Homo sapiens: one gene and its partners. The protein of the gene in region 1 interacts with the protein of each later gene in a pairwise test. Each region holds a gene or a part of one and is shown in the gene's direction. Other genes may lie near its edges.

The links.
Region 2: the proteins of KRTAP4-4 (region 1) and ZNF764 interact in binary tests that used the Homo sapiens proteins (3 or more experiments, as listed by UniProt).
Region 3: the proteins of KRTAP4-4 (region 1) and ZNF440 interact in binary tests that used the Homo sapiens proteins (3 or more experiments, as listed by UniProt).
Region 4: the proteins of KRTAP4-4 (region 1) and GNE interact in binary tests that used the Homo sapiens proteins (3 or more experiments, as listed by UniProt).

Annotation. Positions count from the first base shown.
Region 1 is NC_000017.11:41,159,136-41,165,740, reverse strand, and holds KRTAP4-4 (keratin-associated protein 4-4), read left to right. Parts: upstream 1-4,992; 5' UTR 4,993-5,049; coding exon 5,050-5,550; 3' UTR 5,551-6,092; downstream 6,093-6,605.
Region 2 is NC_000016.10:30,555,361-30,562,492, reverse strand, and holds the start of ZNF764 (zinc finger protein 764), read left to right. Parts: upstream 1-4,118; 5' UTR 4,119-4,310; coding exon 4,311-4,506; intron 4,507-4,646; coding exon 4,647-4,760; intron 4,761-6,382; coding exon of another isoform or gene 6,383-6,385; coding exon 6,386-7,132. UniProt on the Homo sapiens protein: Zinc finger protein that functions as a cofactor for steroid hormone receptors, such as NR3C1/GR.
Region 3 is NC_000019.10:11,810,090-11,817,281, forward strand, and holds the start of ZNF440 (zinc finger protein 440), read left to right. Parts: upstream 1-4,183; 5' UTR 4,184-4,358; coding exon 4,359-4,361; intron 4,362-7,192. UniProt on the Homo sapiens protein: May be involved in transcriptional regulation.
Region 4 is NC_000009.12:36,248,447-36,255,473, reverse strand, and holds part of GNE (bifunctional UDP-N-acetylglucosamine 2-epimerase/N-acetylmannosamine kinase), read left to right. Parts: intron 1-6,076; coding exon of another isoform or gene 6,077-6,118; coding exon 6,119-6,282; intron 6,283-7,027. UniProt on the Homo sapiens protein: Bifunctional enzyme that possesses both UDP-N-acetylglucosamine 2-epimerase and N-acetylmannosamine kinase activities, and serves as the initiator of the biosynthetic pathway leading to the production of N-acetylneuraminic acid (NeuAc), a critical precursor in the synthesis of sialic acids.

The DNA of each region.
Region 1 (6,605 bases):
CAATATAACTTTTAAAAAGTTTTCTCACTATATTCATGGGTTAGCCACTATTCCATATTATCTTGTAAGCCACAGTATGTTCGTTATAACCCAAACCTACTGTGACTTGTTAACTGTTAAAAAATAATTACTATATAATTCTTTGTATAAGCTGGGGGGTAATTGAATGATTAAAAAATTAATAAGAAATAGGCTATTTCAAAAAATGGAAATTTTTTTGTTATTAATTATTAATCAATGCAGAAAATACAATTTTCCATGAAGAAAATATTAGCAAAAACTTCTAGCTGAATAGCAGAAAGAATTTGGAATTTAAGTTTGGAAGGCGTATCAAGGATATGTTCATAATGGGATACAGTTGCATATTCTTAATTGCTTATTTTGCATGCTTTGATGAATATTGAATACTATTATCCATGTAACATAAATATTTAATTCCCTTCATAGTTCTGAAATGGAATTCAGGGCACTTAAAAAATCCCATTAACTAGAGTAAAAATAATTGTGTATTAAAATTATTGTAAGAAGGAGAACAAATCAAGAAAAAGATTTATAAAAATATGTGAAAATGCCTGACTTGCATGCAAATTACATGGAGGGAAAAGAAATGAATGCTTGCTGTGAACTTACCCTTTGGATCATTTTTAAGTTTAGCTCATTTATAAAAATAAATATTTCAGTACCCGATTTTTTTCCCAATTTACATTGCTTGTAGAAATATAGTTGGTGAATTGCATAAGATTCGGACTACTAAGAACTCAACAAGAACATAAATGCAGAGCCCCACCTTATTGTCTCCGAGTTTTACAGAAAGTATTTTAAACAAAAGTCTTATGAACTACTCAATAAGATAAGGAAAATAAAGTACATGTATAACTATTGGAAAAATGATGACAGAGTGTATGATATGCCTGATGTGTGTTTCTAATTGAAAGATAAAAGTTATTTAAAACACTGTAAATGCTCACAAACTGGCCAATTACCCAATCTTAAAAAGAATAATCTCTGAATTTTCCTATATACATATCCACACATCGAAAAAAAAATCCCATGTAGTTAAACATAGACACATGAAAAATAAGAATAAATATATGAAAATATCCAAAAAAAAAGCATGCTGTCTTTTACTACCAATTAGCCTCTTTTTTTTTTACTTTTGTAAATAACGATAGATTTTGAAATAACTATAGATTAACATGAAGTTGAATAAGACAAAGTTCCCTGTACCCTTCACTCAGTTTCCCTCAGTGGTTGCTTCTCATAGGATCATAGTACATGTCAAATCCCAAAATCTGACATTGGTACTAAATTCTAGGGATCTAGTAACTAGCATGGTGATTATAGTTAATAATACTGTATTGAGTACTTGAAATTTTCTGAAAAAGTAGATCTTAATTGTTCTCATTACACACACAGGAAACAATAACTACGTGAGGTGATAGGTATTAACTAACTTGGTTGTGATAATCATCTCACAATATATACATATCAAGGCATCATGTTGTACCCTTGATATACATAAAATTTTATTTGCCAACTCTACCTCAATAAAGCTGGGGAAAAATGAAAGTGCTGAAGTACTAGAAGAAATCGTGAGAGATTTCTAAACATAATGCAAATTTACATTAAGCAAAACACACACGCTCACCTTACAAAGAAAAAAAATAGTCAATTCATGTAAATAAAAGTGATCTCCACTGAGTCATCGGTAGGTACCAGTCATCAGGGTTCTTCAAGGATGTGATTCTTTTCCCATAATTCAAGTTCTCGAGGAAATCTTAGAGTTGTTCTCATACACCATAAACGGGCTCACCAGGGTTTTAACCCCGTAACAGCTTGGAACCTGCTTCTGTTCATTCTGACTGAGGACAAAGGCTCAGGACCTCAATACGATGCTGTGTCTGGGTGCATCAGAGCCAGTGCAGACTCAGAACACCAGCCAGTGCTGAAGCAGGGGCCCACTCAGGAGCCAGATTGTTATCATCCTGGTTGTGTAAGCCTGGAAATCAGGACCAGGGCAGCAGTAGAAACTGGTTAACAGTATAACATTATATTCCACTTATTAGACTTACATGGACCTGAGTGCAGAGAGGGAAGCTCAAAGTAATTTCATCCAATTCCCTCCATCTGGCTCTTGCATGTGCCTCAGTCAGAAACACCAGCTCACACTGAAACCCCCTCCCCTGATTATCTCTAGAGGCAGCCATTTCATAAAGCACCTTCCTCATGTTGTGTCAGATTTTGTTTCTCCCTAGGAACATCCTATCTTCCCTATCCTATATCAGCCCATGGCAGCCATCTGAGGAAGTCCATTCTCATACAGAGCCCCTTCAGGCTGCACTGCCATTGCTTTGTTCCACTTTTCTCCTTTTTAGGTTACATTTCCAAAGTGTTTCCATTTGTTCCTCATTGATCATAATGCCACCCTCACAGCAACTTTGCTTTTCATAAACCCCAATTTATCTTTATCCTTCTAGCCTGGATTGAAATGCATTTTCCAGATGTGTTCTGAACACTCTTGGAGGATTAGAAATGCCTCATCTACCTTAGTAAATGTTCCACTTTCATGAATGTTTCAAGTTTGCATGCAGGAGTTAACACAGTGTTAGTGGCAGTAAGTGGTTGGCAGTAAGTGTGAACTAATACTGAGGTTACTAAAGTGTGACACACCTAAGTAATCCTCATCATAAACTGCTTCAAGGTCTTCTTATACACATACAGTGGTTGTTTCTAGACGAGAAGTTCTCAACCTGCCTTTCTACTGCATGCCTGCAGTAATAGAGCTCATTGTGGTGATCCAGGTTGAGTACCCCATATCTGAAATGCTTGGCACCAGAAGTGTTTCAAATGTCAAGTTTTTTCAGAGTTGGAATATTCGCATTATACTTGTTGAGCATCCCTAATGCAAAAACATGAAATCCTAAATGTTCTATTGGGCATTTTCTTTGAGCATCATATAGGTACTCAAAAAGGTTTGGGTTTTGGAGAATTTCAGATTTCAGATTTTCAGATAAGATGTCCTCAACTTGTAATATTCTATCTGGTGAAGGGATGCTAAGAGGGGACACAACCTTAGGGTGTGTGTATAGTTAAATAAATACTCCCAGTAAATTTAGATATATTCACTCCTCCCCAATCTCGTTTGCCATGCTGCATTAATAACCACTCATTTGATCTACAATTGGTTCTGATATTTCATCTTGTTAGGTTTGATTCCTTGTGAGAGTATTTCTGTAGTTTTGGAAACATGGTTCTGCCATTTGGCATATTCACTTTTTCTTACCTTCATGGCCCCCAAATATTTAGATGAGCATGTTTTATGGAAAGACCCTCAGCAGAGTTGGGGTGTCCATAGTATCCTCAGAGAGACCAGTCCAAACAGAAATTGCTAACCCAAGAGCATCCCAAAGTGGAGGGTGGCACAAAGACAGGAAGTTTCTGCCTTCTTCCTTGGGTTTCTTTAACATCCAGGTTTGGGGGAGTGTGTGTGTGTGTGTGTTTGAGTGTGTGTGTGTGTGTGTGTGCATAATATTCCTAAGGTAAAGGGCCTTAGGAGATAAAGGTAAATACATATATATATAAATATATATATTTCTAAATATGTTATTGTATATATTATATATATATTTATACATACTATTAAATACAAACATATATGAAGAATATATATTATATATTCATAAATATGTAAATATATATATTCCTATATTACCTATATATAAGGTTCTCTATCTACCCATCTATATATGTATAATATATATATATATTCCTAAGGTCCTTTGGCAGAATATATATATTCCCCCAAACCTGTGTGTGTGTGAGTGTATATATATATATACATATACATCAAAAGAAAATTATGGGCCTAGAAGAATTAAAATCACCCAAGGTCAGACATAATGTGTGTGTATGTGTGCGTGTGTGTGTGTATATATATATATATATATATATATACACACACACACGCACACATACACACACATACATACACACACATATATGTGTGTGTATGTGTGTATATTTATATATAGTGTGCATATTTATATATAGTGTGTATATTTATATATAGTGTGTATATACGTGTGTGTGTATACTATATATAGTATATATATGTATATATATAATATATATTATATATATATATATATATTATATATATATAGCAAGGACACTGGGTCCTTTACCTTAGGTTGGCAAGTAAACCTTAGAAATAGAGGAGATGACTCAATGTGATTGTTAAAGCCAGAGAGACAGGAAGGAAAAGTCAGAAGGAAAATCAGCCCCTCAGAGCAGAGAGCGGAGGGACCTGAACCTTTTAGTATAGCTGATCTCTGTAGCCAATTTCCCCTAAAGGCCCTGAAACTGAGTTTTGGAGTGTTGTTTCTCAAGAAAAAGAAGCATCGATAATTCATGACTTAGATGTCCACCTTAAAACAATTCTGCTTTCCCCAGTAGAACATCTAGAAAATGGGTCATGATTCATTGTATGGAAGGTGGCAAGGAATATATCCTAATAGTATTTGTTTTCATGCCACTGGTCACCTGTTTCACATTCAAACCTTCATTGCTCACTTGATCTATAACAAACATGCCATGAGATTAAAGCACAGCTTTCTCCTCCTGAGTCACCAAAAGAAAATTACGGGCCTAGAAGAATTAAAATCACCCAAGGTCAGACATAATGTATTAAGGAAAATGAGGCTGCAGCACATGGTACCTGCAGGCAGATGTCACATGGCAGCTCAAGGAGGAAGCTGCAGCAAGAGGCACACAAGAGGTTGTTCAAGAAGAGCTGACCTGAAGAATCCTAACACACCAGGGGAAGGAAATAATGCTTTTCTCCATGTTGACAAATTTAAGCAGAAAAACAAACTTGCCTAATTTGATAATTGCCTGCTCATCAGAACAAACAATGACAAGGAAAGAGTGCTGCATCCGATGACATCAGCCCTGAGCAGGGTATAAAAGAGGATCTGGGGCAAGGAGACTTCCAAGCCTTCCAAACCCTCCTTCCTGGAAACCCACCCAGAACCTCCACCCTCTGACACCATGGTCAACTCCTGTTGTGGCTCTGTGTGCTCTGACCAGGGCTGTGGCCTAGAGAACTGCTGCCGTCCCAGCTACTGCCAGACCACCTGCTGCAGGACCACCTGCTGCCGCCCCAGCTGCTGTGTGTCCAGCTGCTGCAGACCCCAGTGCTGCCAGACCACCTGCTGCAGGACCACCTGCTGCCACCCCAGCTGCTGTGTGTCCAGCTGCTGCAGACCCCAGTGCTGCCAGTCTGTGTGCTGCCAGCCCACCTGCTGCAGACCCCAATGCTGCCAGACTACCTGCTGTAGGACCACCTGCTGCCGCCCCAGCTGCTGCAGGCCCCAGTGCTGCCAGTCTGTGTGCTGCCAGCCCACCTGCTGCTGCCCCAGCTACTGTGTGTCCAGCTGCTGCAGACCCCAGTGCTGCCAGACCACCTGCTGCAGAACCACCTGCTGCCGCCCCAGCTGCTGTGTGTCCAGGTGCTACAGGCCCCATTGTGGCCAGTCTCTATGCTGCTAGCCCATCTGCTGGCAAACCACCTGCTACAGGACCACCTGCTGCCACCCCAGCTATTGCATTTCCAGCTGCTGCCAGCCTTCCTGCAGTATCTCTAGCAGCAGTAGCTCCTCCTGCTGTGGCTTCAGCTGCTGCAGGCTCTCCTGCTGCATCTCCAGTTGCTGCCGCCCCAACTGCTGCCAGACCATGTGCTGCCGCCCAACCTGCTCTAGTGCTTCTTGCTGCTGAGGCTGTCATCTGGACTCACCAGATTCTCATCAACCAGCATTCTTGATGTAGCTCATCTATGAGCTGAGTTATGGGAAGCTAGTTGGAAAACTTCAGTTCCAACCAATTCTTAGATTGAATCTGGCCTCCAAATATATGCTCCCCCCACATTTTACCTCTCTACCAAATGAACATAAGTTGTAATTTGCTCTGAAATCTGTCAACTATCTTAATTGAAATATTTGCTCTCTGCCATAATTTCTCATATGGAGCTATTCCATTTTAAACAAATATTTATCTAAATAAATCTTAAATAAATTTTCAGGCATAGAAATATACAGATACTGTGTCTCATTATTTTTCTTTTTTGAGTGTGGTCAATTACCAGTCAATTTTTCTGTTGTTCTTCTCTGCAGAATGTAATTTCAGGGGCACCACCTCTATTTCCTCAGCACACTTTATTCTAATATACAATGGTGGTTTCTTAGAGCAAGCACCTGGAACTCTCTTCTTGAAGAGTTTCTCTAGCCAAGGAGCAAGCTCTGGACTGTAGAGTTAAAGCCTCTTGGAATAGTATTCAACAAATGAGTGAGAGTTGGTGAACACATGCTTTAGTTATTTCTCCTCCAGTTGGGAGCATGTTGTACCAGCATGTCAGTGGTCCTCAGAGACACCAAATTCCAGCTACCTACAGGGCTATTCTGATCATTAACTCATCTTGTATTCACTTCCCTCCCTTTCCTGGAGCATTTTTCGTGTTCCATACAGCACTTCTTGGGACCACCTCCCAAATATACTCCTGGGTCGGCTCCAGTGGGGACCCAATCTAAGACACCAGTGTTCCTAACCTC
Region 2 (7,132 bases), on another chromosome or scaffold:
ACCAGGGAGGCAGAAGTTGCAGTGAACGGAGATCGCGCCACTGCACTCTAGCCTGGCGACAAAGTGAGACTCTGTCTCAAAAAAAAAAAAAAAAAAAAGACTCCGTCACTGAGTGGGCCTCCTCGAAGGGCCTCCTCTAAGGGACTGGGAAGGGGACGTCAGGCCCTCGGTCGAGAATCTTGGACCGGTTTCCCCTCCCCTGCAGCCTTTGCTGCCACCTGCCTGAGCCCAGGTCAAAGCGGCCGCACCCATCTTAACTACGGGCAAGAGGCGCTGCCAAGGCCGCCTGGGAGGAACAGCAAGAGAAGACTTTTCCAGCAGGAACAAACTAGGTCAGCAACACCGGATCGATATTCAAGCTGTTCAATGCCTTTCTCTAAAATGAAGAGAAGCTGGACTGTCGCCAGCCATCTTTTCTTCTTCTTTTTTTTTTGAGACAAGAATCTCACTCTGTCACCCAGGCTGGAGTGCAGTGGCACGACCTCAGCTCACTTCAACCTCTGCCTCCCGGGTTCACACGCTTCTCCTGCCTCAGCCTCCCAAGTAGCTGGGATTACAGGCGTGTGCCACTATGCCCGGCTAATTTTTGTATTTTTAGTAGAGACGGAGTTTCACCACGTTGGTCAGGCTGGTCTTGAGTTCCTCACCTCAAGTGATCCACCCGCCTCGGCCTCCCAAAGTGCTGGGATTACAGGCGTGAGCCACCGTGCCCAGCCGCCAGCCATCTTTTCTAAGAGCGCTTTCATTTTTCTGGACTCCGGAACCACAGAGTTGCTCGCCGTCCTCTCTAGGCCCCACCCGAAGCTACTACCGGTCGTCGAGGCGTCCGTGGAACCTCCTGCACCCTACTCCCAGGGCAAACCCCCAGCGTCCCTCCGGGAGCCGCGGAGCCACTGGCCGCGCTCATGGCTCCAAGCCAATGAACCAGGGAAGGTGGAAGGGACGGAGACTGGGAAAGTGTCTGAGGACCGAGAGCTCCGCGGAAACGGCCGACTGCCGCTTCCTGGCGCAGTGGGGGTGTCTGCGGTATAGGGATGTTCGCGTCCTGATCCGGGACGCGATGCCGCGACCTGCGGCCACCTAGACGCGCTCAGCGGCGCCCGCCCCACCCGGATCCCCGAAAAGGGAAAGAAGTGGCTCTCCTCACTTATGCGGCAGGTTGAGCTGTTTCCTGAGATTCCCGCCAGATCACCCTCCCTGAAGTTCCCTCCAGGCTCCTCCACAGGGGCTCCCCTGGACCTCCTGTAAAACATTCACAGCCTGGTATACTGATATATTCTGAGTTAAAAACAGAGAAATTGTAGTTTCAGAAGGAGCAATCCGACCTGTTTCTTCTGCATGGAGCATGCCAGAAACCTTACTCTGGGGGAGTATCCTTCTGTACCAGGGCAAGAAAACAGCCCTGAGAAGCCACAAGGGACCAGAATAAACATACGTAACAAAGTCATCTGTATCTTGTACCTGTTTGACAACCCCCTGATACATATTCTAGTTACTCACTGCCCTAGCCAAATTTTCTTTGTCCTGTCATTTCTTTTTTCTTTTATTCTTTCTTTCTTTTATTTTTTATTTTTTATTTTTGAGACCGAGTCTTGCTCTGTCGCCCAGGCTGGAGTGCAGTGGCGCAATCTCGGCTCACTACAACCTCTGCCTCCCGGGTTCAAGCTATTCTCCTGCCTCAGCCTCCCAAGTAGTTGGGACTACAGGCACGCACCACCATGCCTGGCTCATTTTTGTATTTTCAGTAGAGACGGGGTTTCACCATGTTGGCCAGGATGGTCTCGATCTCTTGACCTCGTGATCCGGCCACCTCAGCCTCCCAAAGTGCTGGGATTACAGGCATGAGCCACCGGGCCGGCCCTCTTCTTCTTTTTTTTTTAAACGAAGTCTCTCTCCCGCCCAGGCTGGAGTGTAGTGGCTCAATCTTGGCTCACTGCCACCTCTGCCTCCCAGGTTCAAGTGAGTCTCCTGCCTCAGCCTCCTGAGTAGCTGGGATTACAGGAACCCACCACCACCCCCAGCTACCTTTTTTTTTTTAATTTTTAGTAAGGACGGGGTTTCCTGACCTCAAGTGATCTGCCCACCTCGGCCTCCCAAAGTGCTGGGATTACAGGCATGAGCCACCGCGTCTGCCCACTGAAATTTTATTGTTCTTTGTCTAAAAAATATAAAAGCACCTGGCTTTGGGCACTTTTTCTGACTTCCCTCTCTTGTGAAGATCCCCATGTACATGTAAAACTAATACAATTGGTATAATTTTCTCGTTTGTCCACTGTCAATTCATTTGTTCTTATTTTACTTTAGTTTATTTTTATTTTTATTTTTTGAAGATAGGGTTTCACTAACTTGCCCAGGCTGATCTCATACTCTTGGGCTCAAGGGATCCTCCTGCCTTTGCCTCCCAGTAGTTAGCATTACAGGCGATTCTCAATCTGGGCCTACATTCAACTAAAGAGCCCACCAAGAGCTAAAAGGCAGTTGGAGGCAACTCTGACTCCCATACACAGTAAGGGAGGAGACCATCCCTCATATTGTCTTACGCCCAATTTCTGCCTCCAAAGAAAGAAGAAGTAAAAACTCAAAGGCAGAAATGGAATCCACAGGCAGACAGCCTGGCGCCACACCCTGGGCCTGGTAAAGATCGACCTCTGACCTAATCAGTTTTGTTATTTATAGATTACAGACATTGTATAGAAAAGCACTGTGAAAATCCCTGTCCTGTCCTGTCCTGTTCTAATTACCAGTGCCTGCAGCACCCAGTCACATATCCCCTGCTTGTTCAATGGATCACGACCCTCTCACGGGGACCCCCTTAGAGTTGTGAGCCCTTAAAAGGGACAGGGATTGCTCACTCGGGGAGTCGGTTTTTGAGATGTGAGTCTTGCCGATGCTCCCAGCCGAATAAAACCCTTCCTTCAACTCGGTGTCTGAGGGGTTTTGTCTGTGGCTTGTCCTGCTACAACAGGACATGTATGAAGTCACGTGGAGCACAGAATAGACCATCAGAAAGTGAGAGAGAGGTCTGGGGGAGAGTTGGTGACATTTACTAGATAAAGACCCTAGGGGAAGCAGATTGGGGCAAGAAAGGGATGAGTTGGATTTGAGTAGAGGAGCCTTGGGCCATCTGTCCAGGGGCAGGATGTGAGGGGAGGTGAGAGCCCGGCTGCAGCTACAGGGAGACTGGCAATTGGGAGGCGTCCTGAGCAGCACATGGGAGAAGCTCCTAGAAGAGAGGACCCTCTGACTTTCTCAACCTTACCCTACTCTCCCCACTGCCTCCGCCATCTAGAAACTTCCAGAATTTCAGGCCCCAACAAGCCTACGATGGAGGAGGTTCTCCTGTATCCACTCCTTTTTCTTTCTTTCTTTCTTTTTTATTTTTGAGACAGAGTTTCGCTCTGTCGCCCAGGCTGGAGTGCGGTGAGGCAATCTCGGCTCACTGCAAACTCCGCCTCGCGCGTTCAAGCGATACTCCTGCCTCAGCCTCCCCAGTAGCTGGGATTACAGGTGCACGCCACCACACCTGGCTGTTTTTTTGTGTGTTTTTAGTGGAGACGGGGTTTCACCATGTTGGTGAGGCTGGTCTCGAACTTCTGACCTCAGTTGTTCCGCTGGCCTCGGCCTCCCAAACTGCTGATTACAAGCGTGAGCCACTGCGCCACGCCCACTCCATTGGTTTTTTTACACTCAACATTGGGAAGAGACTGCTGTTGCCCTGTTTCTGAGATAACAAGGACAAAACGAGAGAGTGATGAGCTGGAGCCCGATTATAAAACGGTCCACAAACGAAAACTAATGCCTGAGTTCAGTAAGGCCGGGAGGCCAGCTCACTCCCGCGAGGCGCTCTTTTGTTCGTGCAAACCGGGGCGGAGCTCTCTGCTGCACCGCCTCGCCGGGCCGGGGCGGAGCTCTCTGCTGCACCGCCTCGCCGGGCCGGGGACTAAACATGCGCGGCTAGTTTTCAAGGCCGGCCTCTGTATTAGTCACCGCGGCCATTTTGGATGAGGGTACGGAGAGAACGCGGACTGGAGATACCGGGGGCGTTGTCTTGGGCACGACTGCGTAGGGGCAAAGGTCGAGTACCCGCGCCGCCGCCATTTTTTATGAGGGCATATTCCATTTCTGATTATACACCCGCTGCCATCGGCACCGTTAGTTTCCACGCCCTCTAGTGCGCCCTCGGGGGCCCTAGTAACCTCCCTCCTTCCCTTGGGCCCGGGCCGGGGAGGCTTTCTCGGGCGCAGGAGGTTCCGCAGGCCCAGGCCAGGCCAGGGGAGGCAGCCGATCCGTCGTCGGGGTTGACAGTTACCATGGCGCCGCCTCTGGCCCCGCTCCCTCCCCGGGACCCAAACGGGGCCGGACCCGAGTGGAGGGAGCCGGGGGCTGTGAGCTTCGCGGACGTGGCCGTGTACTTCTGCCGGGAGGAGTGGGGCTGCTTGCGGCCAGCGCAGAGGGCCCTGTACCGGGACGTGATGCGGGAGACCTACGGCCACCTGAGCGCTCTCGGTGAGAGCCCCACCTGCTCGCCTGAGCCCTGCGCCCCCACAGGCCCTGCCGCGCCTCTGGGAGCTGCGCGTGAAGTTGGGGGCCCCGGGGCCGGGCAGGTGGCCTCCCCGCAGCGTGGGGTTTGCGTTCTTCTTCCCTAGGAATCGGAGGCAACAAGCCAGCTCTCATCTCCTGGGTGGAGGAGGAGGCCGAACTGTGGGGTCCGGCTGCCCAGGATCCGGAGGTGGCGAAATGTCAGACACAAACGGACCCAGGTGGAGTATCGGGTGCTCAGTCCCATGGGGACTTCTCTGTTCCTGTCCCATCCCGGTACCCTCTGCCACCTCCAGCTACCTGCTTAGCAGTTTCCTCTCTGAACTGCCTTCTCAACTGCGACGACGAGGCTGAGCCCCTGCGTGGCTCCCAGATGCAGCCTAGAAAGGAGCTGTGATGGGGGCTCTGGCCCTGCCATACCCGCCTCTGAGTCCTCACCTCTGCGTGGTCACTACACTCTGGGGGCTTTTTTTGGTGTTTTTGTTTTAGAGACAGGGTCTCGCTTTGTTGTCTAGGCTGAGTGCAGTGGCGGCATCATAGCTCACTGTAGCCTGGAACTCCCGGGCTTAAGCAGTCCTTCCACCTGGGCCTCCAGAGTAGCTAAGACTGTACAGGTGCTCGCCACGAAGCCTGGGTAATTTTTTTTTTTAGACAGAGTTTTACTCCGTTGCCCAGGCTGGAGTGCAGTGGTGCCATCTCAGTTCACTGCAACCTCCCACTCCCAGGTTCAAGTAATTCTCCTGTATCAACCTCCCAAGTAGCTGGGATTACAGGCGCCCGCCACCAAGCCTGCTTAATTTTTTTTTTTTTTTTTGAGACAGAGTCTTCCTCTGTCGCGCAGGCTGGAGTGCAGTGGCGCCATCTCGGCTCAGTGCAAGCTCCGCCTCCCTGGTTGACGCCATTCTCCCGCCTCAGCCTCCCCAGTAGCTGGGACTACAGGCGCCCGCCACCACGCCCGGCTAATTTTGTTTTTGTGTTTTTAGTAGAGATGGGGTTTCACCATGTTAGCCAGGCTGGTCTCGAACTTCTGACTTTGTGATCTGCCCGCCTCGGCCTCCCAAAGTGCTGGGATTACAGGCGTGAGCCACCGCGCCCAGCCAATTTTTTGTATTTTTAGTAGAGACAGGGTTTCACTATGTCGCCCAGGCTGGTCTTTAACTCCTGGAGCTAAGCGATTCGCCTGCTTCGGCCTTCCAAAGTGACCCACTGCGTCTGGCCTAATTGTTTTAAATTGTTATGTAATATATATATTTTATAGAGGGGGTCTTGGCTCTCGGTGTGTTGCCCAGGCTGGTCCTGAAATCCTAGGCTGATCCTCCTTCTCTACCTCCCAAAGCGCTGGGATTACCGCCTTGAGCCCCCACGCCCAGTCTCTTAAACTCTGTTGACTCTACCTCCACCTCAGGACCCACCCCTGCCGTTCACCTGCAGGCTGGTTCCTTTCTCCCCGTCCGCCCCCCTTTTTTTCTTTCATTTCTTGCCCTCAGCCTTTGCAGAGTATCCAGCCCCACTGAACTTGGCCATGCCCTCCTGGTTCTGCCTTTCTTGGTGCTGTTCCTGCTGCCTGGAACATCCTCAGGTGTCCGTTCCTCCTTCTGGATCAGGCCCAGATGTTCATGTCATCTCTGCCCTTCCCCCACCGTGACATTTCCCCAGCCCCGAGGCGGAATGGGCTGTTCTCTCCCTCCCGGCTCTGTCTGGCTCTGCAGCCGAGGAACAGGTGTCACTCCTCCATCTCCCAGGAGCAGCCGGGGATCCAGCAGGCCTGTCCCTGTCCACGCGGGCTGTGGGATTCAAGGACCAGGATGAGCCGAGCCTGAACTCTCCCCTCTTTATCTCTCAGCAGATTCCAGAAACAAGAAAAAGGAAAGACAAAGGGAAGGGACGGGAGCCCTGGAGAAGCCCGACCCTGTGGCCGCCGGGTCTCCTGGGCTGAAGTCTCCCCAAGCCCCCTCGGCCGGGCCCCCTTATGGTTGGGAGCAGCTGTCCAAGGCACCGCACCGGGGACGCCCCTCCCTCTGTGCCCACCCCCCTGTCCCCCGAGCTGACCAGCGTCATGGCTGCTACGTGTGCGGGAAGAGCTTTGCCTGGCGCTCCACACTGGTGGAGCACGTCTACAGTCACACTGGCGAGAAGCCCTTCCACTGCACTGACTGCGGCAAGGGCTTCGGCCACGCTTCCTCCCTGAGCAAACACCGGGCCATCCATCGTGGGGAGCGGCCCCACCGCTGTCTGGAGTGTGGCCGGGCCTTCACGCAGCGCTCGGCGCTGACTTCGCACCTGCGCGTCCACACCGGCGAGAAACCCTATGGCTGCGCCGACTGTGGCCGCCGCTTCAGCCAGAGCTCTGCCCTCTACCAGCACCGGCGCGTGCACAGCGGCGAGACCCCCTTCCCCTGCCCGGACTGTGGCCGCGCCTTCGCCTACCCCTCGGACCTGCGGCGCCACGTGCGCACCCACACCGGCGAGAAGCCCTACCCGTGCCCGGACTGCGGGCGCTGCTTCCGCCAGAGCTCGGAGATGGCAGCCCACAGGCGCACCCACAGCGGCGAGAAGCCCTACCCCTGCCCGCAGTGCGGCCGCCGCTTTGGCC
Region 3 (7,192 bases), on another chromosome or scaffold:
CTTTTTTGAAGTGCCAGCCAAACTCTTCTTCAGAGAAGCCTGTTTGAAACCCCCTAGAGTCAAAACCTGGTACCACAGGACAGAGCAGCAATGAGTGACCAACCCCTGACTCTATGTGCAGATGACACATCCATCCCCAGATTAGGTATCAACATAAGTGAAAGGTACTGTCATTGCCTGTCATTTTTTTTTTTTTTGAGATGGAGTCTCACTTTGTCACCCAGGCTGGAGTGCAGTGGCACGATCTTGGCTCACTGCAACCTCTGCCTCCTGGGTTCAAGCTATTGTCCTGCCTCAGCCTCCCAAGTAGCTGGGATTACAGGTGCCCGCCACCACACCCGGCTAATTTTTGTATTTTTAGTAGAGACGGCGTTTCACCATGTTGGCCAGGCTAGTCTTGAACTCCTGACCTTGTGATCCACCTGCCTCGGCCTCCCAAAGTGCTGGGATTACAGGCGTGAGCTACTGCACCCAGCCCATTGCCTATCAGTTTTTATAGAGTGTCGCTTAGATCAAGAAAGAGATGGTAATACAGAGTTAGGTGTGTCTGAAACCAAACACGACCTCATCCTTCTCCCTTGAAGGCCAAATGCACTCTGAGAGTTTGGTTAGAGTACAAACAACGCCACCAACTTCACTCCAGATGTGATTTTCTACAGGAGGCGGGCACTGTGTTGGGATGGCCAGTGAAGGTAAGGAACACTAGAGGTGCAGGTTTAGGTGATGAACAGGACACAGCCTGGACATTATTAGCCTTGACTATGGAGGTGTCTTGATGTTTCTCAAATTGAGACCAGTCTGGCCAACAGGATACTGAACTGGTTTTCGATGGAAAAATTCATCTGTATAGGGATCTATTCGCTTCCTTTAAGTTTCAGTTTCGTTATGTGGCATTTAGCATGAGTGACTCCATTTTGGTCTGATCTGGTTTCTAAGTGCCTAGTGCAGAAGCTCAGTCCAAAACAATGGCCTCCCATAATGTTCATTTTAACATTTTCTTTATACTAATACATTATATCAGGTCACCTCAAATGTCACCTCCACAGAGGGTTCTTCCTCTCACCTCAGTTAGTCCTACTTCTTTCCATTCAGTTTTTTGTTACACTGCACTTTTTAGGATCTGGGAAATCTAATCAAAGTTCACAGGGTTTATTGCTTATTCTTTTTCTTTTTCTTTTTCTTTTTTTGAGACAGAGTCTCTCTTTGTCGCTGCCCAGGCTGGAGTGCAATGGTGTGATCTCGGCTCATTGCAACCTCCACCTTCCAGGTTCAAGCGATTCTCCTGCTTCAGCCTCCTTAGTAGCTGGGATTACAGGCATGCACCACCACACTCAGCTAATTTTTGTATTTTTAGTAGAGATGGGGTTTCACCATGTTGGCTAGGCTGGTCTCGAACTCCCAACCTCAGGTGATCCACTCACCTCAGCCTCCCAAAGTGCTGGGATTACAGGCATGACCACTATGCCCAGCCAGGTTCATTACTTTTTAAAAATCAATCTATGAAAAATTAAATTGGCCAGGCATGGTGCCTCAGAACCTGTAATCCCAGCACTTTAGGAAGCTAAAGTGGGAGGGTCACTTGAGGCCAGGAGTTGGAGAGCAGTCTGGGCAACACAGTGAAACCCCATCTGTACAAAAAATACAAAAATTCGCTGGGCTTGGTGGCGCACACCTGTGGTCCCAGGCTCTACTTGGGAGGCTGAGGTGGGAGAATTGCTTGAGTCCGGAAGATCAAGGCTGCAGTGAGCTCTGTTTGCACCACTGTACTCCAGCCTGGGTGACAGAGGGAGACCTTGTAAAAAAAAAAAAAGAAAGAAAGAAAGAAAGAAAGAAAGAAAGAGAGAGAGAGAGAGGGAGAGAGAGAAAGAAAGAAAGAAAGAAAGAAAGAAAGAAAGAAAGAAAGAAAGAAAGAAAGAAAGAAAGAAAGAAAGAAGAAAAGAAAAGAAAAATCATGTAAATGAAACCAAATTCAGTGATGTTACCTTAACTTTTTTTCTTTTTTCGGGTAGAGACAGGGTCCCACTATGTTGCCCAGGCTGGTCTCAAACTCCTGGCCTCAAGCGATCCTCCTACCTTGGCCTTCCAAAATGCTGGTATTACTGGTGTGAGCCACCACACCTGTCCTACCTTTATTTCTAATAACTGATATGCCTTACATTAAAAAGTCTTTTAGAAAACACCTTTGAGCCATTTTCCAGATAGGGGAAGTCAATGAAGCTCCCTCTTGTGGTGAGGGCGACTTTAACATCCACACATCCTGTCTGGGGGACTGGATTTCTGAGTTGTGCTGAGACTTAAGAGTGGAAAAAAAGTCTACTCTTTTTCCTCTGCTCTCACACAACACGGAATACTTCTGTGACCAAATGCAAATATTTGAGAAGTGTCCCCCACATGCCAAGCAAAGCATCAATTCTGCAACTGACTCCAGCTCGATGTCTTCTAGTTCCAACACTTTCTACCTTTACATAAGGTACAAAACTGCCTCAGAAATCATCTGACCATGTGTCCCGGTTTGCCAGTGATAATCCTTGATAGTACCTGTTGTCCCAACATAGTTTTTCATAGCACCTCATCTTGCCATGGTTATCTGTGTCTGAACAATGAATATGTATGAATACTTTCACACATAAGCAAAATTAGGTTTATTAAATGAAGTTTCCAGGAATGTTCAAATTTCAACACCTGATTTACCTTATCACAAGTTATGGCTGTGCTAATTTCTCCAGGAAATATTCACAGAATATTGAATTTATCATTGTAAGGTGTGGAGCAATGAAGATGCCCAAGAGGCCAGGCGCACACCTGTAATCCCAACACTTTGGGAGGCTGAGGCTGGAGGATCACTTAAGCTCAGGAGTTTGAGATCAACCTGAACAACCGAATGAGACCTCATCTCTACCAAAAATAAAAAACTAGCCAGGCATGGTGGCAGGCACTTGTAGTCCCACCTACTTAGGAGGCTGAGGTGGGAGGATTGCTTGAGTCTGGGAGGTTGAGGCTGCATTGAGTAGCCATCGCACCACTGCACTCCAGCTTGGGCGACAGAGTGAGACCCCGTCTCAAAAAAAGATGGCTAAAACATAATTTTTTTTTTTTTGAGATGGAGTCTCACTGTGTCTCAGGCTGGAATGCAGTGGCACGATCTTGGCTCACTGCAAACTCTGCCTCCCGGTTCAAGCAATTCTCCTGCCTCAGCCTTTCAAGTAGCTGGGATTACAGGCATGCGCCACCATTCCTGGCTAATTTTTGTATTTTTAGTAGAGATAGGATTTCACCATGTTGGCCAGGCTGGTCTTGAACTCCTGACCTCGTGATCCACCTGCCTCAGCCTCTCAAAGTGCTGGGATTACAGGCATGAGCCACCGCGCCCGGCCTGCCTAAATCATAATTTCTATGACAGAATTTCTCATTTACAGCTTCCCCTGAGACCATCTTTCATTTCAGTTAACCCTGCTCCTTGGGGGTTATATGTGAGATAAAAGTGCCATGCTATATCATGTTCCCTGGCTCAGTCCTACACAGCATGTCCTGAAAAATGGGTCTTCAGTCACTGTCAATGCACCAGGGATAGATATACATAGTACTGAGAGCCTCTAAATCTTTAATAAGTTCTGGCTTGGTTAGCTCCCTTACAAGGAAAACCTTGCTGGAGTCCATAGCAGTGTGAGGAAGCCTTGGCCATGCCTCATCCCATTTCCCGCACGCTGGAAGACATCTGCCTCTCTCTCCTGGTGCAGTCGTGCCTTGCCTGGTCTGGGCTCCCCTCCTGCTCTGAGGCAAGCGTATCTCTCCATTGAACACTGAGTCTGAAATGCCCTGCACACACTTGTGATCCCGTGCAGAAGGAAGGAGCAGGGACAGCCCCTTGAATGAGGAAGCTAACAGTGCCTCTTCTAACAATAAGGAGCAAGTCGCCTTGAAATGCAAATATCTGATGACCAGGGCTCAAGGAAGGCGCTCGCTTAGAGAGGCTGTTCGCTTAGAGAGGCTGCTCGCTTAGAGAGGCTGCTCGCTCAGAGACGCTGTGGCCAGAACAAGTCAGACATGATCTGCAGGACCCGGTTACCCAGGGCTTCTGCTGTCACTCAGCACGGAGGAGGCGGGGCCTGGCGCCCCATCCAATCAGGGGTGCTGGGGCGGGGCCCTGTCAACTGTCCATCCGGGGAAGGGGGAAGGGACAGTCGCCCTCCGTCCATTCCTTTAGTGCTGCGCCGACAGCGGTCAGGATCTCGGCTTTCTTGCTTCGAGAGGGACTAGGTGCCTCCACCAGAGCTTCTGTCGCTCTGTAACCTGCACTGTGACCTACACTAGTCGCGGGAGCCACGCAGAGGACGCCGGAACACCCTGGAAGCCGAGAAATGGTGTGTGTGAGGGGGCTGGCGTCCGGGCGACTGGGAGAGGGGCTGGAATCGGCCGGAACCGGCTGAGGCGGGACCCGGGCCTCCACGCGGCGACTCCGGGGTCGTGGACGCGAGTCCCCTCGGTCGCAGGGTGGGGCTGGGCCGGCAGCCGGGACCCCGGGCCTCCTGTCCCGTCCCTTCACGGCGACTGCGGCCCCGGCTCCGGAGCCTAATCTGGGCAGCTCCGCGTCTCCCCACATTATGCGGGGGCCACGGGAGGGATATGGGGGGATCCCGCCTCGGATATGGGGTTTGTTAGAAACAAGTGCCCGGTGCCGCAAAGAAAACCAGCATCTAGGCAGAAAATTCCTCAGCAAAGCAAATTTATTTCTACACAAGGGTGCAGCTTGCGCCAGTCACAAGAGCACAGCGAGCGGGGTAGGGCAGGGGTTTTTCTCCTTAACGCAGTTTCTAGCACTTCTGTGTCCTTTCCTCATTGGCTAGGGTTGGACCTCACAATCTAAACTAACTCGATAGGCTAAGGTTTAAAATTAAATAGGGTCTGGCCAGGCGCGGTGGGTCACGCCTGTAACCCCAGCACTTTGGGAGGCCGAGGCAGGCGGATCGCGAGGTCAGGAGATCGAGACCATCCCTGGCTAACACGGTGAAACCCCGTCTCCACTAAAAATACAAAAAAATTAACTGGGTATGGTGGCGGGCGCCTGTAGTTCCAGCTACTCGGGAGGCTGAGGCAGGAGAATGGCGTGAACCCGGGAGGTGGAGCTTGCAGTGAGCCGAGATCGCACCACTGTACTCCAGCCTGGGCAACAGAGCGAGACAACTGGGCAACTCCGTCACACACACACACACACACACACACACACACACACACACACAAATTAAATAGGGTCTATGAGACGGGAAGGAACAGGGACTGTCCGTTACTAGGCGGGAAGGCGTATCTGGACTTGTCTGGGCGCGGCAAAAGCGGGAAGGTTGTTTACAGAACAGGTAGCTAGGAGACAAGGAAGTCGGTCTCAAGAAACAAAGAACAGCTTACTAAAGCTTTTAGAAAAGTAATTTATCATCTCTGACAGGTTCGTGTGGGAGGAGTAGCGGTCTTTGGGGTCCCCAGTGCCCACTTTTTTCTGTTAAAAATTAAACTGAGGTACGTTAACAATTAAAGAGTTTAGGGCCGGGCGCGGTGGCTCACGCCTGTAATCCCAGCACTTTGGGAGGCCGAGGCGGGCGGATCAGGAAGTCAGGAGTTCAAGACCAGCCTGGCCAACATGGTGAAACCCCATCTCTACTAAAAATACAAAAATTAGCTGGGCATGGTGGCGCGTGCCTGTAATCCCAGCTACTTGAGAGGCTGAGGCAGAAGAATTGCTTGAACCCAGGAGGCGGCGGTTGCAGTCAGCCAAGACGGCGTCACTCCAGCCTGGCAACAGAGCCAGACTCCATCTCAAAACAACAACAACGATTCACGAATGAGAAACACCCAGTCCTGGCTTGTGGTTTGTCAACGGAAAAAGCCAAGCTATGTAAAATAAAGAAGTTTATTAGGAGCCGAATAGGAGAGCCGTTGGCCGAGGGAAACACAACCCCAAGCAGCCTGGAGTAAGTGGTCCCGAGGCAGCTCAAGACAGTTTGGTTTTATTCATTTCAGAGAGACAGGAATTGCAGGGAAAATCATGAATCAGTGCCTGGAAGGTGTAAGTTCCATTGGCAGAAAGGGTGGGACCTGTGGAAGGGGGGTTAGAAGGCACAGGTAGTTGAGGGATTCTGTAGGTGGCAGCTGGTTGAGAGTGTTGAATCTTTGTCTAAAGTTTGGAGGAGGTAGGAAGGAATGCTGAAGGAAGGGGGTCTGTTATCTGCCACTTCATTCCATCCCAGCCAAAAAACAGACCTGTTTCTCGAGATTTTATGAATTCTAAGGCGTAACTTTACCTTTGCCTTGCGTGGCCTTAGGTCTTGTTTGTAATTTGGTATCTTGTTGCCACAAGGAGTCTGTTTTTCCAGTCAGATAATGTCTGTTTTTACATGAATGTGCGTCAGTTGCTGCATGTAAACTCCTAAAGGGAGAGGGTATAAGGAGACCTGTCTCACCTCCCATCCTGTCATACAGAGGCACTCAATTTTCAGGGTTTTTTGGGGGTTCCCTTGGCCAAGAGCCAGTCACTTCACTTAGCTGGGAAGGTACTTTGTTTTTGTTTTTGTTTGAGACAGAGTCTCCTGTAGCCCAGGGTGGTGTGCAGTGGCTCTATCTTGGCTCACTGCAACCTCCACCTTCCGGGTTCAAGCGATTCTCCTGCCTCAGCTTCCCGAGTGGCTGGGATTACAGGCATGTGCCACCACACCCGGCTAATTTTTGTATTTTTAGTAGAGATGGGGTTTCACCATGTTGGCCAGGCTGTTCCTGAACTCCTGACCTCAAGTGATCCACTGGCCTCGGCCTCCCAAAATGCTGGGATTACATGTGTGAGCCACCTCACCAGGCCAGAAGGTATGTTTTTATTTTTAGTTTACAGGTTGAAGGCTGGACTTTTATAAGGTACATGAGGAGACAAACCAGATAAATGCTTGATTGGTTGCAGAGATGCAGTCACCTTATTTGGACTTGTCAACCCGAAATAATCGAAAGTTTCAGATTTCAACTGGAAGAGTTTATTCAAGCAAAAAGATAGCAATGGCCCATTTGGGAAAAACACAGACTCCAGAGAAATGGACTCAGTACTCCAAAATTGGAAGTTAAGTTCTTGCTTATATTACTGGGAAAAGAGGTCCTGATCAGATCCCAAGAGAGTTCTTGGATCTCATACAGGAAGGAATTCAAGACGAGTCGGAAAGTA
Region 4 (7,027 bases), on another chromosome or scaffold:
ATTTTTGTGAGGCAAGGCCAAGGCAGATGACTTGAGGTCAAGAGTTCGAGAACAGCCTGGTTTAGTTGAAACCGCGTCTCAACTAAAAAAATACAAAAATTAGCCAGGCATGGTGGCGTGCGCCTGTAATCCCAGCTACTTGGGAGGCTGAGGCAGGAGAATTGATTGAACCCGGGAGGTGGAGGTTACAGTGAGCTGAGGTCGCACCACTGCACTCCAGCCTGGGCAACAGAGTGACACTCCGTCTCAAGAAAAAAGAAAAATACTGTGAGGCAAAACAAATCATTCATGGTTTGTCAATTTATATTTATTTTACAAAGAACAGTAAATGTTCCATCTGGCAGTACTAAAATGCCTCGTACTTACCAGTTACTCAAAGGTTATTCTACCTAAACTGAGAGCAAGCTGGCCATATGAGTAAACTGAAAAATAGAACAATGTTACCTAAGGCCAGGTTTATAGACAAGCTTGCCTTCATCTTGAACTCACTGGCAATCTGAGAAACCCAATTATTTTTTTTTGAGATGGAATCTCACTCTTGTTGCCCAGGCTGGAGTGCAGTGGCAGGATCTCGGCTCACTGCAACCTCCGCCTCCCGGGTTCAAGTGATTCTCCTGCCTCAGCCTCCCCAGTAGCTGGGATTACAGGCGCCTGCCACCATGCCTGGCTAATTTTTGTATTTTTAGTAGAGATGGGGTTTTGCCATGTTAGCCAGGCAGGTCTTGAACTCCTGGCCTCAGGTGATCCGCCCGCCTCGTCCTCCCAAAGTGCTGGGATTACAGGCGTGAGCCACTGCGCCCGGCCGAAACTCAATTCTTGAAAGCAGCTTTTTGCATTCTCTCAACTCAAGACTGTCCATTGTAAGTACTGATGAAAAGTGATTGCCTCCTTACAAAAGGAAATTTACTTGCCCCAGGCTGGATTTAAATTTTAATTTTTTTAAAGATAGGGTCTTGCTCAGTCTTTCAGGCTGGAGTGCGGTGGCATGATCATAACTCACTACAGCCTCAAACTCCTGGGCTAAAGTGATCTTCCTGCCTCAGCCTCCCAAATAGCTAGGACCGCAGGTGTGCACAACCACACTCAGCTAATTAAAAAAAATTTGTTTGTAGAGACAGGAGTCTTGCTATGTTGCCCAGGCTGGTCTTGAACTCCTGACTTCAAGGAGTCCTTCTTGCCTCAGCCTCCCAAAGTGCTGGGATTACAGGCATGAGCCACCATGTCCAGCCAGATTTCTTGTTTTTATTTATTTATTTATTTATTTATTTTGAGACAAAGTCTCACTCTTTTGCCCAGGCTGGAGTGCAGTGGTGCGATCTCAGCTCACTGCAACCTCTGCCTCCTGGGTTCAAGCGATTCTTGTGCCTCAGCCTCCCAAGCAGCTGGGATTACAGGCACGCGCTACCATGCCTGGCTAATTTTTCTTTTTCTTTTTTTGAAATGGAGTCTCGATCAGTCTCCCAGGCTGGAATGCAATGGTGTAATCTCGGCTCACTGCAACCTCCGCCTCCCAGGTTCAAGCAACTCTCCTGCCACAGCCTCCTCAGTGCTGGGATTGCAGGTGCACGCCACCACACCCTGCTAAGTTTTGTATTTTTAGTAGAGATGGGGTTTCACCATGTTGGCCAGGCTGGTCTCCAACTCGTGACCTCAGGTGATCCGCCCACCTCAGCCTCCCAAAGTGCTGGGATTACAGGCATGAGCCACTGTGCCCAGCCAAAGTTGAATGTTTTTGCTAAATTTTAGGGCTCTTATAACTCTTTGTATATTTGAAAAGCTGATGGCCAGCAATTTCCAAAATTTTGCACTTTTAGATTTGATATTTCCAATATCTTTAAATGTTCTCATTCTACCATTTGAGTCATAATTAAAAGCATTTTAAAAAGTAAGATTTGTGGCTGGGCGCGGTGGCTCATGCCTGTAATCCTAGCACGTTGGGAGGCCGAGGTGGGTGGATCATGTGAGGTCAGGAGTTTGAGACTGGCCTGGACAACATGGTGAAACCCCGTCTCTGCTAAAAATACAAAAAAATTTGGTGGGTGTGGTGGCGGGCACCTGTAATCCCAGCTACTCAGGAGGCTGAGGCACAAGAATCTCTTGAACTGGGGAGGTGGAAGTTGCAGTGAGCCAAGGTCATGTCACTGCACTCTAGCCTGGGCAACAGAGGGAGACTGTATTTTAAAAAAAAAAAAAAGTAAGCTTTGCCCCAACAGTTTATAGAATATGTTACCAATTTTGTAATATACGTTGTGTATGTGTGTATGTATACACATACATACATCATATATATACACATCATATATATATATATTTAGATAGAGACTTATTCTGTTGCCCAGGTTGGAGTGCAGTGGCACCATCTTGGCTCACCGCAAGCTCCGCCTCATGTGTTCAAGTGATTCTCCTGCCTCAGCCTCCCAAGTAGCTGGGACTATAGGTGTGTGCCACAACACCTGGCTAATTTTTTTTGTATGTTTAGTAGAGATGGGGTTTCACCATGTTGGCCAGGCTGTTCTTGAATTCCTGACCTCTCGTGATCCACCCAGCTCGGCCTCCCAAAGTGTTGGGATTACAGGCGTGAGCCATATATTTATTTATATTATCATAGTTTATCCATGGAAGGACAGATAGGAAACCAGTAACTGCTTCCAGGGAAAAGAACTAGCTAGCTGGGGAACACAGATGAAAAGACTTATTGCTACTTAACCTCTTGTGACTTTTCAATTTTAAACCATGTGAATATACTACCTGATCAAAAATTTAGTTAATTAAAATTATTTTTTAAAACCTCCCCTTAAAAAGGCATTTTACCTTAATTTTATTTTTAAGATTTAACTTCTTTCCTTGAAAAAGCTTTGACTTTTTAAGGTTTTTTAGGTTTCTAGGTAACATTGTTGTATTTTTCACCATTTATTTATATGGCCAGCTTGCTCTCAGTTTAGGTAGAATAACCTTTGAGTAACCTGGTAAATAAGCATTTTAGTACTGCCAGATGGAACATTTACTGTTCTTTGTAAAATAAATACAAATTGACAAACCATGAATGATTTGTTTTGCCTCAGCAAATTAAATATTACCAACAATTTTTTCAGCTCAAATTTGATCACTGGAAGAAGGATTATATACAAGAACACTTACGACAACCATTTTTGGAAGAATATTTTTGTCTCTTTAAAGATTAGATAGTGCGGCCACGTGCGGTGGCTCATGCCTGTAATCCCAGCACTTTGGGAGGCCGAGGCGGGTGGATCATGAGGTCAGGAGTTCGAGACCAGTCTGGCTAGCATGGTGAAACCCCATGTCTACTAAAAATAGAAAAAATTAGCCCAGCATGGTGGCACATGCATGTAATCCCAGCTACTCGGGAGGCTGAGGCAGGAGAATTGCTTGAACCCAGGAGGCGGAGGTCGCAGTGAGCCGAGATTGCACCACTGCACTCCAGCCTGGGTGGCAGAGCAAGACTCTGTCTCAAAAAAAAAAAAAAAAAGATCAGATAGTGCTTGGGTCTTCTGAATATAACTCTCTTGGTGGAATGCCCGTTTCGTTATATTGTAAGTGTTTGCCATTGGGTGAAATTAGCTTTTACTGGGGATTATAAATTCAGAGTGGACCTAATGATGGGACCGTTTGCATGGTCACAGAATTTTAGCCTAAGAGAGTGTTGAGGTACCAACAGCAGAGGGCTACTGATGGAATTTCCAGTGAATTTCAGAGTTTACCCTCATCTAAAGGATGGCACCCCTAGAATTGGAATCCTTACTGAAGTGTCTCTGGATTCCTGATTACAAGTTCTAAATATTGATACACTTACTGAAACATGAACATTGAGATCAGAGTCCATGAGGTGAAATTTTATGTTGATTTAGAGAAGTTTAACATGTTCCAAGTCTGGCTCAGTGGTGTATGCCTGTAGTTCCAGCTACTTAGGAGGCTGAGGTGGGGGGGTTGCTTGAGCCCAGGAGTTCCAGGCTGCAATGAGCTATGATCGTGCTTGTGAATAGCTACTGCACTCTAGCTTGGGCAACATAGCAAGATCCCATCTCCAAAAATGTAAAAACTTTTTAAAAAATTCCATAAAACAAATCTCTTATTCCTTGCCCCTGATTTTACTTTTTGAATGGAGGGTATAGCATGGCAGGGAGGGATGAGCGAGCAGTGGAGCTGAGCAACAGTATATCTGTGAATGGGAGGGCCATAACGCTCAGAGCGAGGCAGCAACTGAGAAACGTGGGGGAGGAGGACCTGAGGTTTGTGTGAAGCCTTTCCAGAAAGGATGACACTTAGATGGAGTTTTGAAGGATGAGTAGAAGACCAGCAAGGAGGAAAGGAAGTTTTAGGAAAAAGTAGGTGGCATCTATAAAGGTATAGATATACGGAGATTCACTAGTTGAACTGGAGGCAGTTTGGTATGGCTGGCACTTTGGCACAGAGAAGGGTAATTTTAGGCAGGGAAGAGATGGTGGAAAGGAAGATCACTTTGAAAGTTTGTAGGAGGCCGGGCGCAATGGCTCTTGCCTGTAATCCCAGCACTTTGGGAGGCCGAGGTGGGTGGATCACTTGAGGCCAGGAGTTCAAGACCAGCCTGGCCAACATGGCAAAACCCCATCTCTACTAAAAATACAAAAATTAGCTGGGCATGGTGGTGGGCACCTATAATCCCAGCTACTCGGGAGGCTGAGGCAGGAGAATTGCTTGAATCTGGGAGGCGGAGGTAGTAGTGAGCCAAGCTCGTGCCACTGCACTCCAACCTGGGCGACAGAGTGAGACTTTGTCTCTAAATAAATAAGTAAGAAAGTTTATAGGAGACAGGCAAACCACTTGACAGCTGTTAAGATCGTCCAGACCTAAAATGAGGGACTGGACTAGGGGAAGTCCTTGTATGGATGAAGAGGAGGAGATAGATTTGAAAGATATTTAGGGGGTGGAATTGACAGCATTTTGGAGATATGGGGTGAAGAACAGAAAAGACAAGGATTTGAAGGCATTTGGATGAATGAAATTGCATAACTCAGAGAACAATTGAGGAGGAACAGCTTCCGAAAAGAAAATGAGTTCAGTTTGGGACACTGACTTTAAGGTGTTTATAGGACATACAGCAGGAGATATCTGATAGGCATTTGGAGTTGTCAGTTTTGTTGGCACTGGTGTGTAGGTACTAATGAGGGCTTGAAGGTCAGGTTTTTATCTTACTCATCTTTCTCCTGCCCAGCATTAATCACAATACCTTGTATTTAGGAAGTGTATAGTGTGAGAGTGAATAGCCTGTGTTCCTTATGAGACATGATCTGGAATGTTGGGGCAGTAATTTTCCCTCTCAAGACCTGTGTTTCCCTTTCTATAAAGTGATGGAGTTGAACTAGATCAGTGGTTCTCAACAACTGATTTTGCAACAACCTACTATGTTGGGCTCATCTGTGAGTTATGGCAAGTAATTTTTAATAATAAAGAGCTGATATTTCCTCACCTTTTAAACAAGAGCTGATTTATATCACTCCTTCTTAATGGCATTCCAGTGTGTTTTCTTGAGTGTGAGAGGATGGGGTGGTGTTACAGTTAGTTTGCTGGAGTTTCTTCTTCTTTTTTTTTTTTTGAGATGGAGTCTCGCTCTGTCACCCAGGCTGGAGTGTGGTGGTGCGATCTCAGCTCACTGCAAGCTCCGCCTCCTGGGTTCACGCCATTCTTCTGCCTCAACCTCCCGAGTAGCTGGGACTACAGGTACCCGCCACCACGCCCAGCTAATTTTTTTTTTTGTATTTTTTAGTAGAGACGGGGTTTCACCACGTTAGCCAGGATGGTCTTGATCTCCTGACCTCGTGATCTGCCCACCTCGGCCTCCCAAAGTGCTGGGATTACAGGCGTAAGCCACCACTCCCAGCCTTGGAGTTTCTTAACTCTGGATATACCAATGGGAGAGTCACACATAAGTGGAGGTGCAAAAAAAGATTAAGAATCACTGTACTAAATAGTGGTTAAGGACTTGAAACTGAAAATTTCTATTTCTGATTTAGAGAAGTTTAAAGTTTAGTTATATCTAGGAGTTATTCTGATTATAAAGTTTTTATTTTGGCAATTTCAGGAACTCTATTTTAAGAACCTCTCAAAACGAAACAAGCAAATCATGGAGAAGAATGGAAATAACCGAAAGCTGCGGGTTTGTGTTGCTACTTGTAACCGTGCAGATTATTCTAAACTTGCCCCGATCATGTTTGGCATTAAAACCGAACCTGAGTTCTTTGAACTTGATGTTGTGGTACTTGGCTCTCACCTGATAGATGACTATGGGTAAGATGAAAGCATTTTCTTATTCTTCATTGCAACAGTGTGCTAGAAGGAGCTTGGGTTTTGTAGCCATATGGGCCCAGCTTCAAATTCCTGTTCTGCTGCTTAGTTTTTATGTGGCCTTAGAGTAGTCACTTAGCATCTCTGAGCCTCAGTTTCCTCATTATATAATGTAGTGAAAACTTATATTGTAAATTATTGTGAGGAATGGAGATCATGATATAGAGCATCCATCACAATGATGCCGCTTAGTAGATGATTGATAAATGGTAGCTATAAATAATATTACTGTTTGTTATTAGTTGTTACATTCAAACAAATGCCACTTATAAATACATATTGTATGAGTATAATAATGTGATTCCATGTAAACTGTTTTGTGAGCTGTAATGGCAATCTTTAAAACTGGTTTATAGGCCAACAGCATATAAAGTAGTAGATATGGAACAAGATTTTAAAAATCTAATCTGCAAGGTAAAGTAGAGAGTTACATTACTGTCACCATTGACATTTATTTTGCTGACATTAGGTTTGTTATTAATCACAGGCTACATTTAAAAAGTGAAAGTTGGGCCGGGCACGGTGGCACATGCCTATAATCCCAGCACTCTGGGGGGCTGAGGTGGGTGGATCACCTGAGGTCAGGAATTTGAGACCAGCCTGGCCAACATGGTGAAACCCTATCTCTACGAAAAATACAAAAAAAAAAAAAATTAGCCAGTTGTGGTGGCGCATGCCCGTAGTCCTA